Homo sapiens: one gene and its partner. The protein of the gene in region 2 purifies or fractionates together with the protein of the main gene of each other region. This does not show direct contact. Each region holds a gene or a part of one and is shown on either strand. Other genes may lie near its edges.

What was found.
Region 1: the proteins of CIAPIN1 (region 2) and GARS1 fractionate together in Homo sapiens (co-fractionation; 2 studies listed by BioGRID). This does not show direct contact.

Annotation. Positions count from the first base shown.
Region 1 is NC_000007.14:30,610,041-30,620,013, reverse strand, and holds part of GARS1 (glycine--tRNA ligase isoform 1 precursor), read right to left. Parts: intron 7,919-9,973; coding exon 7,769-7,918; intron 4,119-7,768; coding exon 3,956-4,118; intron 2,901-3,955; coding exon 2,736-2,900; intron 1-2,735. UniProt on the Homo sapiens protein: Catalyzes the ATP-dependent ligation of glycine to the 3'-end of its cognate tRNA, via the formation of an aminoacyl-adenylate intermediate (Gly-AMP).
Region 2 is NC_000016.10:57,436,962-57,444,385, forward strand, and holds part of CIAPIN1 (anamorsin), read right to left. Parts: intron 4,023-7,424; 5' UTR 3,968-4,022; coding exon 3,811-3,967; intron 2,374-3,810; coding exon 2,221-2,373; intron 1-2,220. UniProt on the Homo sapiens protein: Component of the cytosolic iron-sulfur (Fe-S) protein assembly (CIA) machinery required for the maturation of extramitochondrial Fe-S proteins.

The DNA of each region.
Region 1 (9,973 bases), on a different chromosome or scaffold from region 2:
CCTGAGGTCAGAAGTTCAAGACCAGCCTGGCTAACACGGAGAAATCCTGTCTTCATGAAAATACAAAAATTAGCTGGGTGCAGTGCCATGTATCTGTAATCCCAGCTATTTGGGAGGCCGAGGCAGGAGAATCGCTTGAACCCAGGAGGCAGAGGCTGCAGTGAGCTGAGAGTGCACCACTGCACTCCAGCCTGGGTGACAGAGTAAGACTCTGTCTCAAAAAAAAAAAAAAAAAAAGAAAAAAAGAAAAAACTACTAAGCTTTCCAAGCACATGTTATCACATGGGGTGTCTGTAATAAAGCAAGCAAATATAAAACTCATATGAGCTCAGAAACTCCAACACAAAACAACAACAAAAGGAATTAAAGAACAAAGCCTAAAAACATGTAACCTGGCAATCTGACATTCCCTATACATGTCGACTGGTTAAGTATACTTATGTTCTTAACCATATAGTTTGGTGGTTATAATTTACTGCAGATGTCAACTAACATTTATGTACTGAAAGGTAAAATTACAAAAACGTGCCTGAGAATAACAACATTGGGATAGTGGTTACTTCTCTGGATGGAAAGAGAATTGGTGTGGCATTAACTGCAACGGTAAATTTTTTTATTAAAAAAATATATAAAGTACACAAAAAGTATTAAACTCTCTAAGGGAGTTCTCCCCTCTCCTTAAGAGCCTCTGGGACTCTGGAGCTTCTTGTTTCATTTAGCCCTGTTTTCCAGTGACTTTCCATTTTCTGATCCCTAACCCTCACAATGGCACTTAGATAAGGACGAGCAGGCATCCAGTGGGGTTTATAAAGCAGTACAGCATAACTGTTAAGAGCATGAGTCTGGTGTCAGACAGCCAGGTTTATATCCCAGCCTCACCACTCACTGGCTGTGAGACTTAAGCAAATTACTTAACTGAGACAGCAAGAACAACATCTGGTTTAATCTGAAATCAGAATCAGAGCAAACTAAGAGAAGGAGCTGGGTATGAAACAAAAAGAAAAGTAATAATCTTTTCTCATACAAAAGGAAAAACATTTTATTGGTTTGATCTGAAAATAAAAAGAAGTCCCAGAAAATCTAAAAAGTGTAAAGAAATTAATGATCACCCATAATCCTAAAAATAATTACTATTATCATTTTGACATATGTCAAGCAAGCTTGCTAAGAAAATCCTAACAGATTACAGTAATTCTTTCTAATTCCACAAGGGAAAAAGAATATATTAAAAACAACATCATTAATAGCCATTTATAAACATATGCATATTATTATGCATTTATGCATGCATGTGTTAGAACACGTAGAAAAATCATCTAGAGAAGGCAGACATACCCAAGACCATGGAGCTAAGCATGATCTTTTTTCGTCTGTTTGTTTGAGACAGGGCCTCACTCTGTCACCCAGGCTTGAGTTCAGTGGTGCAATCATGGCTCACTACAGCCTCAACCTCCCGGGCTCATGTGATCTTCCCACCTCAGCCTCCCAAGTAGCTGAAACTACAGGGGCGTGCTATCACACCTGGCTAATTTTTGTATTTTTTGTAGAGACAGGGTCTTGCTATGTTGCCCAGGCTGGTCTCAAATTTCTGAGCTCAAGCAATCTTCCCACCTCGGCCTCCCAAAGTGCTAGGATTACAAGCATGAGCCACCACACCCAGCCAGTTTGGACATTTTTTAAAAGCTGTTTTTTACAAGCTGTAAAAAACAACAAAGTTATGTGACAGAGACTCATAAAGCTAAAAATATTTACCATCTGGTCCTTTATAGAAAATGTTTGCTCAATACAGAGAAGAGACATAAAACACCTGGGGAGAGGCATATAACTGGAAGTTTAATTTTCTACATAATAGTCTTCAGAATTATTTTTTCCTTTTTGTTTTAAAAAAAGTAGTCATTACTTTTTAAAATATGACTAATTTTGATTTTTAATTTTTAAAAATCCATAAAAAGAAAGCCATTCTGAAAAGTAAAAACTGAACCAAGGGTATACTGGAACCAGTGACCCCTGGACTAAAGTCTCTTTCTATGTAGGCGAGGAAGCCTCTCTAACACCCAATAAGAGAAATGCCAAAAGACTCTCAGCCTTGTTTTAGATGCCACATTTCCTCCTGCCACCAATATAGACAGCATCTCCTATATGCAAATGCCTTTCGTCCCTCCGCTTCAATACTGATGTTCATGTTTGGTGGTGGAGGCTGGAGGGGTGACAGGGCACAGGGGCAGGAGGGTACCTGGAGATCGTCTGTGAATTTTGAGTTAAATACATAACATTTGAGGAAGGTAGTTCTTAAGCCAGAGATCAGAATCAACTAGTATATTCCCCAAAGCTACTACATAGCTCATTGAGCTAAGAGCACTATGACTTTCTTTATTCAACCTCTCCACCATTTCCAATGTTTGCTGGGACTCTTGCCAGGAAGGAGAGGCCAATGTGTCTTAGATCCACTCCAGGATATTGCCAGTAATGCTGCCAATACACTGTACAGCAGTGTACACATCCGCACTGTCCCATCATACACTAACTCTGTCTCTCAGCTATCTAAGACTACAACGAGCTCCTTAGGACACTTATAAAAAGGCAGGAGGCAACTGCTTTTTCTGTTTTGCTCAGGAAAAGATCTCTTTTCTTTTCCCTTTGTTCCTCTGTGACATAAAGTGCACAAAAATTCATTTGGTACCTGTGCTTCTAAGTTAACAATGTGAAAATCACATGGTAAACAGCACTCCACTTACGTAGGATGTTTTGGATTCTGCATCCCAACAGTCACAGGCATAATGGGCCATCTCATTCTCCATGTGCTGCCGGAAGCGGAGTTTATCTGGAGATATTCCAACCTTCGTGAGGTAGAGGTAGATGCGGCCAATGAAATAGCCTAATACTGTGTTATTAATCACACCCTAAACCAACCAATAAGCAAGCATGGAGGAAGAAAAGAAAACACACATTAATACTCTTCAAAGCCAAGATATCGGTTTCCATTGACTCACTCTACTGAAAAATATTTGACACCCAACACAAACTATTTTATCTTGCTTTCAAAACAATTTCAAATACTCAGAATGAGATCTTGGTTATTTTTTAATGGGTTAATGTCAAGATGATGATAATGGAGTTATTCAAAATCTGTCCAACATACTTACTGGGTCAGCAAAAATTCAGCCCAGTACCTCATACCTCTAAATCTACAGTACTAAAAACAATATTCATAATTGACACTAAAGAATGGCAAAGACATTCCCCTCTGAATTAACCAAAGTAATGACACGTTGAGGGGATTTTAATGTATCCTTACCCACTGAAATTTGTGAACCCCGTAGAGTACACGTAATCATTTTAGTGTTTGCAAGGACCTTAGAAAACATCTAGCCCCATCTCCATACACTGCAGAGGTCTTCTCTGCAAAGTGGCTGACAAGCTATCGTCCAACCTTGCCAGGAGTATTTTCAGGGCCAGGAAGCTCACTGCTCCCTGAGGCAACTCATTCCACTAGTGGACAGCAGCTACTGTTGGCAAGTTTTCACGCACTCACTTCTCCAGGCAAATATTTACAAAGTGCTTATATGCAAGGCCTTATTCCACTGCTATGGGTAATACAGAAGAGTCTGAAACCCAGATGGCTTGCTTTCTGTGGGTCCAATGCTGTCTCCCCCAAAGTAGTACATACTGTTGAGTCAGATTGGTGAGGCACAATGCAAACCAAGATCTATTTTCCAAGTGCTCTGCTAAACATTTTTTTTCATGCTAGCCCCAAGGCCCACAAATTGAGATGTTCAGGTGATTTTTCTCTTACTATAATAATACTGTATAACAAATTCTGTACAAAACCAAGTACTGTAAAAAAGCAAATGACTGCCAAAATAAAATATCTTGTCACCCAGAACACATAGAATTTGCTAATTGCTGCAAACCCTGAACAGGCACAATCTAAGTTAAGTTACCTCCAGAATCCTACCTGTTCAACAGCATCTCCCAGGCGCATTTTCCGAGCGGACTGTCCGCTGACCTGGGCTTTTGCTGAATACAAATAAAGGTGAAGGTCTGCCACATTCTGGAACTTGGGGTGGTCTTTCTCACTGGGATCTACAAAGTGCTCAATTTCTGCCATTGTGAATTCTCTGAAAGCAAAAACGTAAGCGATAAACCTGCATATTTAACTACAAAAAACAAACAAACAAAAAACAAGGCCTCTATTTTCAACTGCATTCTAGTGATAAAGGCTCCATACTATAGTGGTCTTTTTCACTAAACAGAAAGTTGGTTTCCTAAGGGAATGGCCAAAAAAATTTTGAATTAAATTTGTCTGGGTAGTTGTTATTTTTATTTTTTTGATGTATTATATTTGTACAAATTTATGGGGTACATGTGAAGGTTATTTTTAAACACATTAATGAAAATTTTATTACTCACTATTTAAAATAAACATGATCTAACTTCTCTGAAGTATTAATTCCTTCCCTCCAGCTACATCCAAAAAGATTATTACTTTTAACTGAAAATAACTTGTTAAAGGCAGATTAATATAGTTTTTTAAATTAGGAAAACATACGCAAAAATCACATGAAAAATAAGAAATAAGATATTGAATAGTGACATGCAGATAAAATGGTTTTCCTTAAAGCATTAGCAAGTCTTTATAAGTATACACTAAATGAAGTTTCTTCATCCCATTTCAAAGAATGGGAAATTAAAAGCGAAATGAAATGGTTCTTTAGCTTTCATAGCAGTTTGATTTCTTCTTTTTTACTGCTACAAAAAAGTAAATGACTGATAATGGCATCATACAGTTGGTTTCTTTGGAGCAAGAGCTTCTTAAATAAAGTGTTATTCAAGGCAAAGGATATAAGGCATGAATTGAACAAGCTAACATCAAGCTAATTACCTAACGATGAAGTGCACATAGTAATGGTTTCCCAAAGAGATTTCTCTGAATGCAATTTAGTAGCTATTTGCGGGAGAAGTGTTTCAAGTTAATTTTATGAGTCAAAATCAATCTCTCTTCTTTCAAGAAAAATCACATTTTCTGGTGTGCTTCCATGATTATCTCAGATGTTTTACGAGTAATGTAAAATTGCTTAAATGGATCCTAAAAATACATGAAATACACTGCAAAAGAGGTTTAATTTTTTTTTTTTTTTTTTTGAGACGGAGTCTCGCTCGCCCAGGCTGGAGTGCAGTGGCGCGATCTCGGCTCACTGCAAGCTCCGCCTCCCGGGTTCACGCCATTCTCCTGCCTCAGCCTCCCGAGTAGCTGGGACTACAGGCGCCCGCCACCACGCCCGGCTAATTTTTTGTATTTTTAGTAGAGGCAGGGTTTCACTGTGTTAGCCAGGATGGCCTCAATCTCCTGAACCTCATGATCCGCCCGCCTCTGCCTCCCAAAGTGCTGGGATTACAGGCGTGAGCCACTGCGCCCGGCCAAGAGGTTTAATTTTTAAATTTTATTTTTTAATAGTGTCTCTTATTTGGTCCTGCTGCACCTATGTTTTAGTTGTCTTTCAACAACTAGGAAACATCTTCTGTGCCCATATAAATGTGAGAGAAACAAACATGGTGTTTGTCCTCACATAGCTTATAATTGGGCTGACAGCAACTGAACATCTACAATGTGGGACAGGATAAATTACGGGCCCTGCCTAGAATCTCCAAAATGCTGCTGCCAAAGTCTTTCCATCTGTTCTGTCACAAATCTCAGCACTGTGTCTATAGTTAATGATTCACTGTATACCTGAAATCCGCTCAAAGAGTAGATGTTAAGTAGATCTCACCACTAAAAAAAAAAAAAGTAACTATGTGAGGTGATAATTATGTTAATTAGCTTGACTGTGGTAATCATTTCACAATGTATAAGCATATCAAAGCACCACACTGTGTGACTTGAAATCATACAAATCATACAAAATTTACTCATCAATAATCTCAGCTCATAGATAGGAGGCAGGAATCATCAGAATTCTGAGTAACTGTATCTCAGTTCAGCAACTGTACCTGAAACTGTAGAGAACTAAAATACACACAGGCTAGGAAGACAGATAAGTCAATCAAAATAAAATAAAATTTTAGAAAAATCTTCATATGAACAATCTAATACCTCTAAACTAACAAAAGGACAAAAGGAAATACAGCTATGCAAAGATTAATCACCAGAGAACTCTGCCATCAAGAAGAATCAGAACACTAAATAAACCAATCCTAGTCCTACCATGGAACAAAAGCCAGGAGGATGCTGACTCATGAAAAAACTAGTGGACTTCTGGTCAGGAACTTGCAAGGGACATAACAAAACTAGCCAGAATTCAGACATGACACTTTGAAGTGAAAATGACCAAAGAATCCACTGTTGAGAAGCCCCAGAGCCTTTCTACCAGTTAACCCCTGGGATCACTCCCAAGTTCCAAGCTGGTTTCCCTACTCACCACTTTTTTACTGCACAGGCCCCAGACACTGCCTTACTTCTCAGTCCTTCTCAATAATCTTCCCATAGCTACTCTGTGTAAACCCTCTTCGTAACACTGGCTTCAGACAAGGTCAGCCTTACGCAGCTTCCTCAGTTTGGGAAGGCATACTTGCTAGATATTGAAACGGTGAAAAACAAAAAAACAAAAACACTCAGACACTGGGAAATAAAACAAAGACTCAAATCTGACAAATTTGTCATTGCCATCATACCTGGCTAAAGTTTCTGATGACCTCCTCTTTTTACATGAAAGCTCAGAGGGGTCATTCCCCCAACTTTCTCTAAGTTGGGCACATTCTTTCCTCTGTAAGTCCCTCCTTCCTAAACCGTAAACCTGTAGGGCCTAGAGATACAGTTTGCGCAGAACATAGGCATCTTCTCCCAGATGGCATCATGGGAACTAACAAGATGAGGCAGGTGCTGTGGATGCTTTGATCCAGAGTCAGTGACTGGGCTATGTTATGACCCAAGTCTGTAATTACAGTGAGTAAGAAGAGAAGACAGGAAATGGGTGGGCGCTGGGGCTGGGAAAACACTTTGGGGCCTTAGAAAGTTATGTTTAGCTACACCTCGTATTTTATATGGAATGTATTACTCTAAGAGATGATACCAGGAATAACGTATAGAAATCACAAAAAACTTAAGTCATAAACAGCTGAGTCATAATAAATTTCTAAAGAAATATAGAACTCACCAGCCCCAATATGCCTTCCCACACATCCCTGGATAGATCAGACAAAAGTAGGCTATTTGAATAGAGGCCAAGTGAGTGATGAGGGTAAGCTTGCTTGCTGGCCTTTCTGTCATATAGGCCCCCCAAATACCTGGACGGAGGTTGTTTCCAGAACTCCAGTTGGTTACTGATACATCCTCACCCCAACTTCAGCAATGTTGTCTGCCCTAGATATCTAGAACAATCCTCCTGCCACAACTTTCACCCTACCCCCACCCGACCCCACCCTTTTATACACATCACCATTGCCAGTATTGCCTTGGTTTAGACAATCAAGATATTACCATCCTCAAAATATACGATGAACAAGGAAAAAGGTAATTTTGGAGCAGGTGAGACTCTTAAGACAGTCTCCACCCTCCTTCCTTTCCCTTCAAGTTCACTTTTGTCACTCAAAACTGCCTGTCATCCTGGAGATTACATTTAGAGATTCCAAATGTAAAACATGATTTTTGGAGAAAACAAAAATAAATTCATAATCAGGATTATGAAGCAGAATTGCTTCAAAACAGCAAGCTTTCATTTTCAATGCAATGCCAAGGTCATTCACTAATTTGTAAGAGTAACCTGAGCAGTACCTGACTCTGATCAGTCCAGATCGAGGGGAGATCTCATTTCTAAAAGAATTTCCAATCTGGGCAGCAGCAAAAGGCAACTTTCCTTGGTTGAACTCCAAAAGTCGTTTGAAATTCAAGAAAATCCCCTGTGCAGTTTCTGGTCTCAAGTACCTATAAATTTAAGTAAGTCAGTCTGTTACAAAGAAAGAAATTATGTTTTCCAACAATCCTGAAATTCTAGATACAAATCCTAAAAGTCCTAAATATACCATTTTCACAACAAAGTTGAACAGGCCCTAAAATGAAGTTTTAGAAATATTTTCCTCGGTAGCAAACATTTTCATAGCACGTATTAGAAAATGTATTAAGTAATTAGTGTGGCAGTACTACTTTGGCAATGCCATTTCATTTAATTACACCAGTGAGTCAAAACCCCACTTCTCAAAAAGCAGAAATAAAAATAAATTTAAAAACACCACCTCAGGCCGCGCGCAGTCGCTCACACCTGTAATCCCAGCACTTTGGGAGGCTGAAGTGGGCGGATCACCTGAGGTTGGGAGTTCGAGATCAGCCTGACCAACATGGAGAAACCCTGTCTCTACTAAAAACACAAAATTAGCCAGGCGTGGTGGCACATGCCTGTAATCCCAGCTACTCAGGAGGCTGAGGCAAGAGAATCGCTTGAACCTGGGAGGCAGAGGTTGCAGTGAGCCGAGATCACGCCATTGCACTCCAGCCTGGGCAACAAGAGCGAAACTCCATCTCAAAACAAACAAACAAAAAACACCACCTCTCCCATAGTGCCCCTTAAACCCCTGATGTCTTCTAAGTCATCATGTACATGGAGGCAGATGACAATCTTAGGTCCTTTGGAAAATAATACCCATGCCTATGTTTAGCCCTGTTAACCCACATATTAAAACTTAACTGAGGGGCTAAAAAGAAATCAGTATAGGCTCACATTTAACATCAGCACTCACTTATCACTATCACCTCACCAAGCCAGGTAATTTTCAATGTTTTTCAAATCATTTTATTATCTGCAGTATTTTATATTTTCAACCAGAGGCTTCCGCATTTCTCTGTATTTTAAAGATATAGTCAAGCAAATACACTACTATAACCACTGCCCTCTCAATTTCCTAGAAGATATTCTGTGCAAAACATCCACTAAGGAAACGCTCCCAATGGCCTACTTCAGAATAAGTATTTTACTAAAATAACTTTAAAACCAAGGGCTAAAAACCCTAAAATTGTACCCTCTTCTTACTTAACAGACCAACTCTTTTGATTTTTATGGCCCTTTCCAGATTTCATCCAAATGTAAGTAAAGTTTATACATATATTTACAGTTAGTATGTATAAAATCATGTATTACCTATTTTATACTTCCCATTTTCTAAATAATGGCACAAATTTCTCACATTTAATAGTGACAGAATATTATCCCAAACTAATCCACTTTACCATAATTTGTTTAACCACTCTCAAATTACTGAATAGGTTATTTCTACTTTCAATTTATATACTTCTTCTAAGTATAATTTCCTTTCCTTCTGAATTATTTCCTTAGATCAATTCCCAGAAATGGAATGTCTGGGTCACAGGTTATGTCTCATTTTATGACTCTGTACATATGGCCAAAATGAAAGGCTTGCCACTGGCCTCTTTCCATGAAATATTCCAAATCAACCTGATGTCTCATTAGAATAATTAACTGCAACACATTTTGTCACAATTAATTTTTCTTATTCTTCAGTCCCTACTCTGGGAAACACGATCTATCTAGCTCATGTAGGAAAAACTTACTCTCTTACCCTATCATAGAAAAATATCTAAAGCTATGAAATGGAACACTGGCTAAGTCTGTTAAACAGTGGACAAGGAATCAGAAGATAAAGATTCCAATTCTGAATCATACTGTAAACTAACCAGATATTCTTTATCCATGAAAACCACATCTTTCAAATCAACAGGCTATACCTATGCTGTCCAATATGGTAGGACACCAGGCAGATGTCTATTTAAATTTCAATTAAGATGAAATAAATTTTAAAATTCAGTGCCTCAGAAGAACTGGACCCATTATGAGTGCTCAAGAGCCAAATGTGGCTGGTAGCTAATCATACTGGACAACACACATTACAGAACATTTCCATCACTGCAGAAAGTTCCGTTGGACAGTAGCATGCTAAACTAAATGGTTTCTAAAATATCCTTCAGCAA
Region 2 (7,424 bases):
AATACACACAAAAAAAATAGCCAGGCGTGGTGGCACACGCCTGTAATCCCACCTACTTGGGAAGCTAAGGCACGAGAATCGCTTGAACCTGGGAGGCGGAGGTTGCAGTGAGCCGAGATTGCACCACTGCACTCTTGCCTGCACAACAGAGTGAGACTTGATCTCAAAGAAAAAACAAAAAAAAAATAATAACCTATTCTGTTTAATGTACAGATGGTCCTTGACTTAATGATGGTTCTACCTATAATTTTTCAACTTTTATGATAGTATGAAAGTAATACTCATTCAGTAGAAACTGTATACTTCAGTTTTCAGTAAATTACATGAGATACTAAGCACTTTATTATAAACAGGCTTTGTGTTAGATGATTCTGCCCAACTGTAGGCTAACGCAAGTGTCCTAAGCGTGTTTAAGGTAGGCTAGGCTAACCTAAGCAATTGTGTTTAGTAGGTTAGATGAATTACATGCATTTTCATCTTAATAGTATTTATCAGGATGTAACTCCATTGTAAGATGAGGACAATTGTATATATATTTTAGTGATATTATTTTATTATTATTATTATTATTATTATTTTTGAGACAGGGTCTCACTTTGTCACCCAGGCTGGAGTGCGGTGGCATGATCTCAGCTCATTGCAGCCTCGACCTCCCAGGTTCAAGCAATCTTCCTGCCTCAGCCCCCACCAAGTAGCTGGGGTTATAGGTGTGCACTACCACACTGGGCTAATTTTTGTATTTTTTGTAGAGACGGGGTTTCGCCATGTTGCCCAGGCTGGTCTCGAACTCCTGGACTCAAGCAACCTGCCTGCCCCAGCCTCTCAAACTGCCGGGATTACAGGTGTGAGCCACTGTGCCTGGCCATAGCGATACTATTTTAATTTGACAAATCCTTTTTGTTGTTCGAAGTGTTTTTACCTAAGCTCTTAAATGTTATAATTCCATTATTATTGTTTTTTTATCACTCTCTGCTTCTTGAAACCCCTTCCAGAGGTTGTGAGATAATGACTATGAAAAGAGGCTTATGAACTGCAAAGTGCACAGAAACACAAGTATTCCTTCTGAATAGTTCCTTTTTTATCTCTGTATAGTTCTAAGACACTACATTTAGTCATGTAAGGTTTAAATTCCCAGCAAAGAATGCTGATTTATACTACACATAACACAAAGTTCTATTTCCAAATAAACAATGAACACCTTTATACATTTCAAAATACTTTCATTTCTATTATTCTATTTGATGAAATGGTTATGTTTTGACTGAAAGTCTAGTGAAAAATATTAAAAATCCAGACTTGAATCACTCTGACAGCTATACCACCGATCAAAAAAGTTTTTACTTCATGAACACTGTCATTAGTTTCACATGAATCAATAATTACCACATCATTCCCAGGGTTCGGCCACTATTTTTAAACTTTTAATTTTGAAATAACTATAGATTCACAGGAAGTTGGAAAAAACAAAAAAAAGTTCTGTATATTAAGGAGGTCTTCACTTCGTCCCTCCCCACAGTTAACATCTTACCCAATTATAGCATGATATGAAGACCGGGAAATTGATATTGATGGTCCACATAACTTTTTCAGATTTCATTTCTTTTATATGTACTCGTTTGGCAGAAGGGGGCTATATAGTTCTATGTAATTTTATTATATGTGTAGATTTGTGTAACCACCACGACATTCAGAACACAGAATTGTTCTATCACCACAGGAACCCTCATACTACCCCTTTATAGCTCCACCAACCCTTTCCTCCCACTTCTAACCTCTGGCAAACTCTGATCTCCACCGCCACAATTTTGTTATTTCGAGCATATGAATGGATTTGTACAGTACAGAGCCTTTTGAGATTGGCTTTTTTCACTCAGCTACTTCCCTTGATATCCATCCAAGCTGATGTACATATAGTTAGCTAGTTCATTTTTATTGCTGCATCACTTTCCATATTATGAACATATCAAAGTTTATTCACCTGCAAAAGGACCCATTTTTAGATGGCAGTTTCCTTCTATTTTATTACATAATGAGTCAGCCAAAGATTACAATTTCTCCAGATATGTTGCTTCAGATTTTAACAATAATTTATCCCCAAGGAAAAGGTTTTGCTACAGGAATACTGATCTCCCAATGATACCTCCTGCTCACGGAGATGCAGCACACATACTCTAAGACTCAACCCTGTCAAACATGTTTTCCAAGTGAAGATCTCCTTACCTACAGCTGTCTCTACTGGCTCCTTCAGAAAAAGACATCCACCAGGCCGAAGGATCCGGGCGATTTCAGCCAAAATCTCAGCACTGTGCAGAGTGGTGCTTCCTGGGACTAAACCTGACAAAATAATGTCAAAGCTGGATTCTTTGTGGGCAGCTGAAAAGAAGAGGACTCTAATTAGCAATCTCCTGAGCCTGGGATAATCTCCTGGTCCCTTCCAACCCCCAACAAAAGCTACAGACCTCACCCTGAGAGAATGGACACCACTCGATATCCATCCAAGAAGCTGGATGAATAGTAAGTGTTTTAAAAAAACATGGAATAGCTACCAAGAAAGAACATACTTATGGAAATCATCAACTACACTCCTAAGCTCTGCTGCAGGAAGTGAGGGACCCCAAACGGAGGGACCGGCTGAAGCCATGGCAAAAGTACACAAATTGTGAAGATTTCATGAACATTTATTAGTTCCCCAAATTAATACTTTTATAATTTCTTACGCCTGTCTTTACTGCAATCTCTGAATATAAATTGTGAAGATTTCATGGACATTTATCACTTCCTCAGTCAATACTCTTGTGATTTCCTATGCCTGTCTTTACTTTAATCTCTTAATCCCGTCATCTTCATAAGCTGAGGATGTATGTTGCCTCAGAACCCTGTGATGATTGCGTTAACTGCACAAATTGTTCATAAAGCATGTGCATTTAAACAATACGACATCTGCGCACCTTGAAAAAAGAACAGGATAACAGCGATGTTCAGGGAACAAGGGAGATAACCATCAGGTCTGACTGCCTGAGAGCCAGGCGGAACAGAGCCATATTTCTCTTCTTACAAAAGTGAATAGGAGAAATATCACTGAATTCTTTTTCTCAGCAAGGAACAGCCCTGAGAAAGAGAATGCGTTCCTAGGGGGAGGTCTCTAAAATGGCCACTCTGGGATGTCTGTCTTATATGGTTGCAGATAAGGGATGAAATAAGCCCTGGTCTCCCGTAGCACTCCCAGGCCTGTTAGGACGAGGAAATTCCCACCCAGTAAATTTTAGTCAGACCAGCTGTCTGCTTTCAAACCCTGTCTCCTGATAAGATGTTATCTATGACAATGCGTGCCCGAAACTTTATTAGCAATTTTAATTTCGCCCCAGTCCTGTGATCTCGCTCTGCCCCCGTTTGCCTTATTTTATTGCCTTGTGAAGCATGTGATCTCTGTGACCCACACCCTATTCGTACACTCCCTCCCCTTTGAAAATCACTAATAAAAACTTGCTGGTTTTGCGGCTTGAGGGGCATCACGGAACCCGCCGACATGTGATGTCTCCCCCGGACACCCAGCTTTAAAATTTCTCTCTTTTGTACTCTTTCCCTTTATTTCTCAGACCAGCCGACACTTAGGGAAAATAGAAAAGAACCTACGTTGAATTATTGGGGGTGGTTCCTCCGATATATCTCAACTGAAAAACAACAGGGTGACCAGCCACCACTATCACATGCCACCCTAAATGAAAACTCAGATATCAAGGAACCACAGAAATGCAACACTCCCATGGAAACCCCTCCAGCCTCATAAAGACAACGTGGGTGGGTACTTACATTGCAACAGCTGCTTGATGTTTTCCACAGACACGCGGCCCTCATTGCCGGTTAACGCTTGAAGCTTATCCACCAGACCTTTCAGAGCCTCCACTGGGGATGACTTATCCCAGACCACTGCCACAAACTGGCCAGCAGAGATCCCAAAATCTGCCATTCTTGCAGTGCAGTACTGACAGACCTAAAAACTGCTGGCCAAAAGGGAATCAAGACTGGGCAGAGACAAAGTGCAATTTAATCTGTGAGATATCATAAAATATGATTAGAATCCCAACCTAACTTGTAACCGCCCACTAGGGAATGCTGACAACATTAGAAACTCTACTGTATATGCTAAAGAGTCTGAATACATGAACCCCATTATCTCAAGTCTTCATAAGCCCAACATTCCCAAAGAAGGCAGATAGCTTCCTTGGTGAGAATCCTGACTTGGAAGAGTCAAGAAAGGGGATTAGAGGCAAGTAAGAAGGTTGGAGGCAGAAAGATGATTTCCTCTTTGACCTAAGATAATTCAGCATGAACGGAATGGAAAACACACAGGACATCAATTAGGCAAAGTGTGACTTGGCAAGGAAGGCAAATAAATTGACAGAAATAACCCAACCACAGATTCAATGTTTTTAAAAAGAAACAACACATTTAAATTTGCAAACTGAATACTGGTTATTTTCCCTTTCATCAAAATATGAAAATTTAATTCCACTGAATCTGCAGTGATCAAGAATACTTACTATGTCTGTACCATTTAATATTAGCTACATTGTTCAAAGCATCTTCTAAACATTATCTCAACTGAATCTCAGAACAGCCTTAAACTAGATATTATTACCATTTTACAGTCTGGAAACTGAGGCAATTTACGTTGCCCAAGTCACACAGCTAGTGAGTGCTACATGGATAAAGTGAGAGCTGGGATTTGAACCCAAATTCATCTGACTGTAAATCCCATGCTTTTAACCTATGGAAATTTCCCTCCAGGGATCAACTTCCTCTTCCACTTGATACTTAGGTGAGTATATAATATGCTCACAAAGAAATTAGGTCAAGAGATAGTACTCTACTCAGTTTCTCCTTTCTTTCTTAAACATTAATGACACCAGTTTCCAATTTAAAATAGCTCAAATAAATGAAACAAACAATTTGTGGTAGAGGAGTCAAAATGGATTAGTTTTATGTTGAACACTTCAGACTTCTGCAGAGGTGGCCAACTCAGTGGCAATCATGCCACCACAGATACAGACTGAATTCAAGCGAAGTCACTACACTCTTGTTTCTTTTAAAATGTTGACTTCGGCTGGGCACAGTGGCTCACACCTGTAATTTCAGCACTTTAGGAAGCCGAGCCAGGCGAATTGCCTGAGCCCAGGAGTTTGAGACCAGCCTGGCCAACATGGTGAAACCCCATCTCTACTAAAAATACAAAAATTAGCTGGGTGTGGTGGTGCATGCCTGTAATCCCAGCTACTCACGAGGCTGAGGAAGGAGAATCGCTTGAACCTGGGAGATGGAGGTTGCAGTGAGCCAAGATCGTGCCGCTGCACTCCAGCCTGGTGACAGAGCGAGACTCCGTCTCAAAATAAATAAATAAATAAAAAATAAAAAATTATAGCTGGGCGTGGTGGCTCATGCCTATTATCCCAGCACCTTGGGAAGGCGAGGCAGGTGGATCCCTTGAGTCCAGGAGTTCAAGACCAGCCTGGGCGACGTGGTGAAACCCCATCTCTACTAAAAATACAAAAATTAGCTGGGCGTGGTGACAGAATCTATGGTAGTCTTATGTAGTAATCTTATGTAGTCCCAGCTACTGGGGTGGAGGAGAGGGCCTGAGGTGGTAGGACTGCTTGAGCCCAGGAGGTTGAGGCTGCAGTGAGCCAAGATTGTGCCACTACATTCCAGACCCTGTCTCAAAAAAACCAAAGTTCACTTCAAGTAACTCTCCTCTTTGCCTACAAAACATACTCAGGATGTTAAATATTTAACACTCAAGCATTAAATACTATAGCACTTTGATTTGTCACTCTTTTCCTAAAGGAGTTACTAAAGGTTTTATTTGCTAGACTGATGTCAATTGGCCTTCTGGATCCACGGCCTCCATAATCTGGCTCTACCTGTATCTCCCACCATTCCAAAGTGATCCCTCCTTATTCTATGAAAACCCTTTGCATTTTCCCCTCATCATGCCTTTTATCTAGCTCCTTCCATATGATCCAACTGCAAGCGCCCCTAAAAGGATGCTAAGTGTTATCAGACAAGTAGGATTCTTTAGTCATTTAACTCTGTTTTCCTTAATGACAGAGGGCAAGTAAAAATGGAAAAAAAAAAAGAAAAAAAAATAATTAAAAAGACAATAATTCTGGTTTTGTTTTTTTTTTTTTTTTGCGGGGGTGGTGGGGAGGACAGAGTTTCACTCTTGTTGTCCAGGCTGGAGTGTAATCTTGGCTCACCACAACCTCTGCCTCCCGGGTTCAAGCGATTCTCACGCCTCAGTTTCCTGAGTAGCTGGGATTACAGGCGTGCACCACCATGCCCGTCTACTTTTGTATTTTTTTAGTAGACGGGGTTTCTCCATGTTGGTCAGGCTGGTCTTGAACTCCCAGCCTCAGGTGATCCACCCGCCTCAGCCTCCCAAAGTGATGAGATTACAGGTGTGAGCCACGGCATCCAGCTAATTCTGTGGTGTTTTTGTTTGTTTGTTCTGTTTTTTGAGACAGAGTCTCACTCCGTCACCCAGGCTGGAATGCAGTGGCACAATCTCAACTCAGTGCAACCTCCGCCTTCAGCGTTCAAGCAATTCTCATGCCTCAGCCTCCCAAGTAGCTGGAATTACAGGTGGACGCCACCACACCTGGCTAATTTCTGTATTTTTAGTAGCAACAGAGTTGTTGGCCAGGCTATTCTCAAACTCCTGACCTCAAGTGATCTGCCCACCTCGGCCTCCCAAAGTGCTGGGATTACAGACATGAGCCACCGTGCCTGGCCAATTTTGGTTTTTAAATCCCTAAACAGCACACAATCAAGAACTGAAACTTTTAACTGGCACATGATGTCGAGGAAGAACCCTTGCAAACTTCAAGGTGTGCAATATGGGATCAATCTCCCATTTAAGAACCAGCCAGGCAAGATGGGAGTATGGATTGCTGGGCATTAAGTTATAAGAAAAAAAAAATGACCTGTTTCTAGAATGATGTTGGAATAGGTTCTTCCTTGGGACAATAGAAAGGGATGAAAAAGACCCCACCTACTAGACTACCACAACTTTGCACTGTACTTACAGAAAAACCCTCATAAAGGAAACGAAGGGCAAAAGCTTACTTATTAGCTAGAGAAAACAAGCCAAATGTCTAGACCTTTTCAGCAACATTTACGGAGGCTTTTATAGGGCACAGGTTTTGAGTGCAGATGACCTAGGGTTCTATTTACCACTGGATCTTATGGGCACATGACCATGGATAAGTTACTAGACTCTTTGAATTTGTTTTCTCATCAGTAAAGTAGGGATAAAAACCTCATATTTTGCGAGGCTGCTGTAAGAAGCAAATGAGAAGATAAAAATAAGCAAGGCACTCGGCAGGCTCTGGCACACAGAGCTCTGTAAAGTAATGTTCTAGAACTCT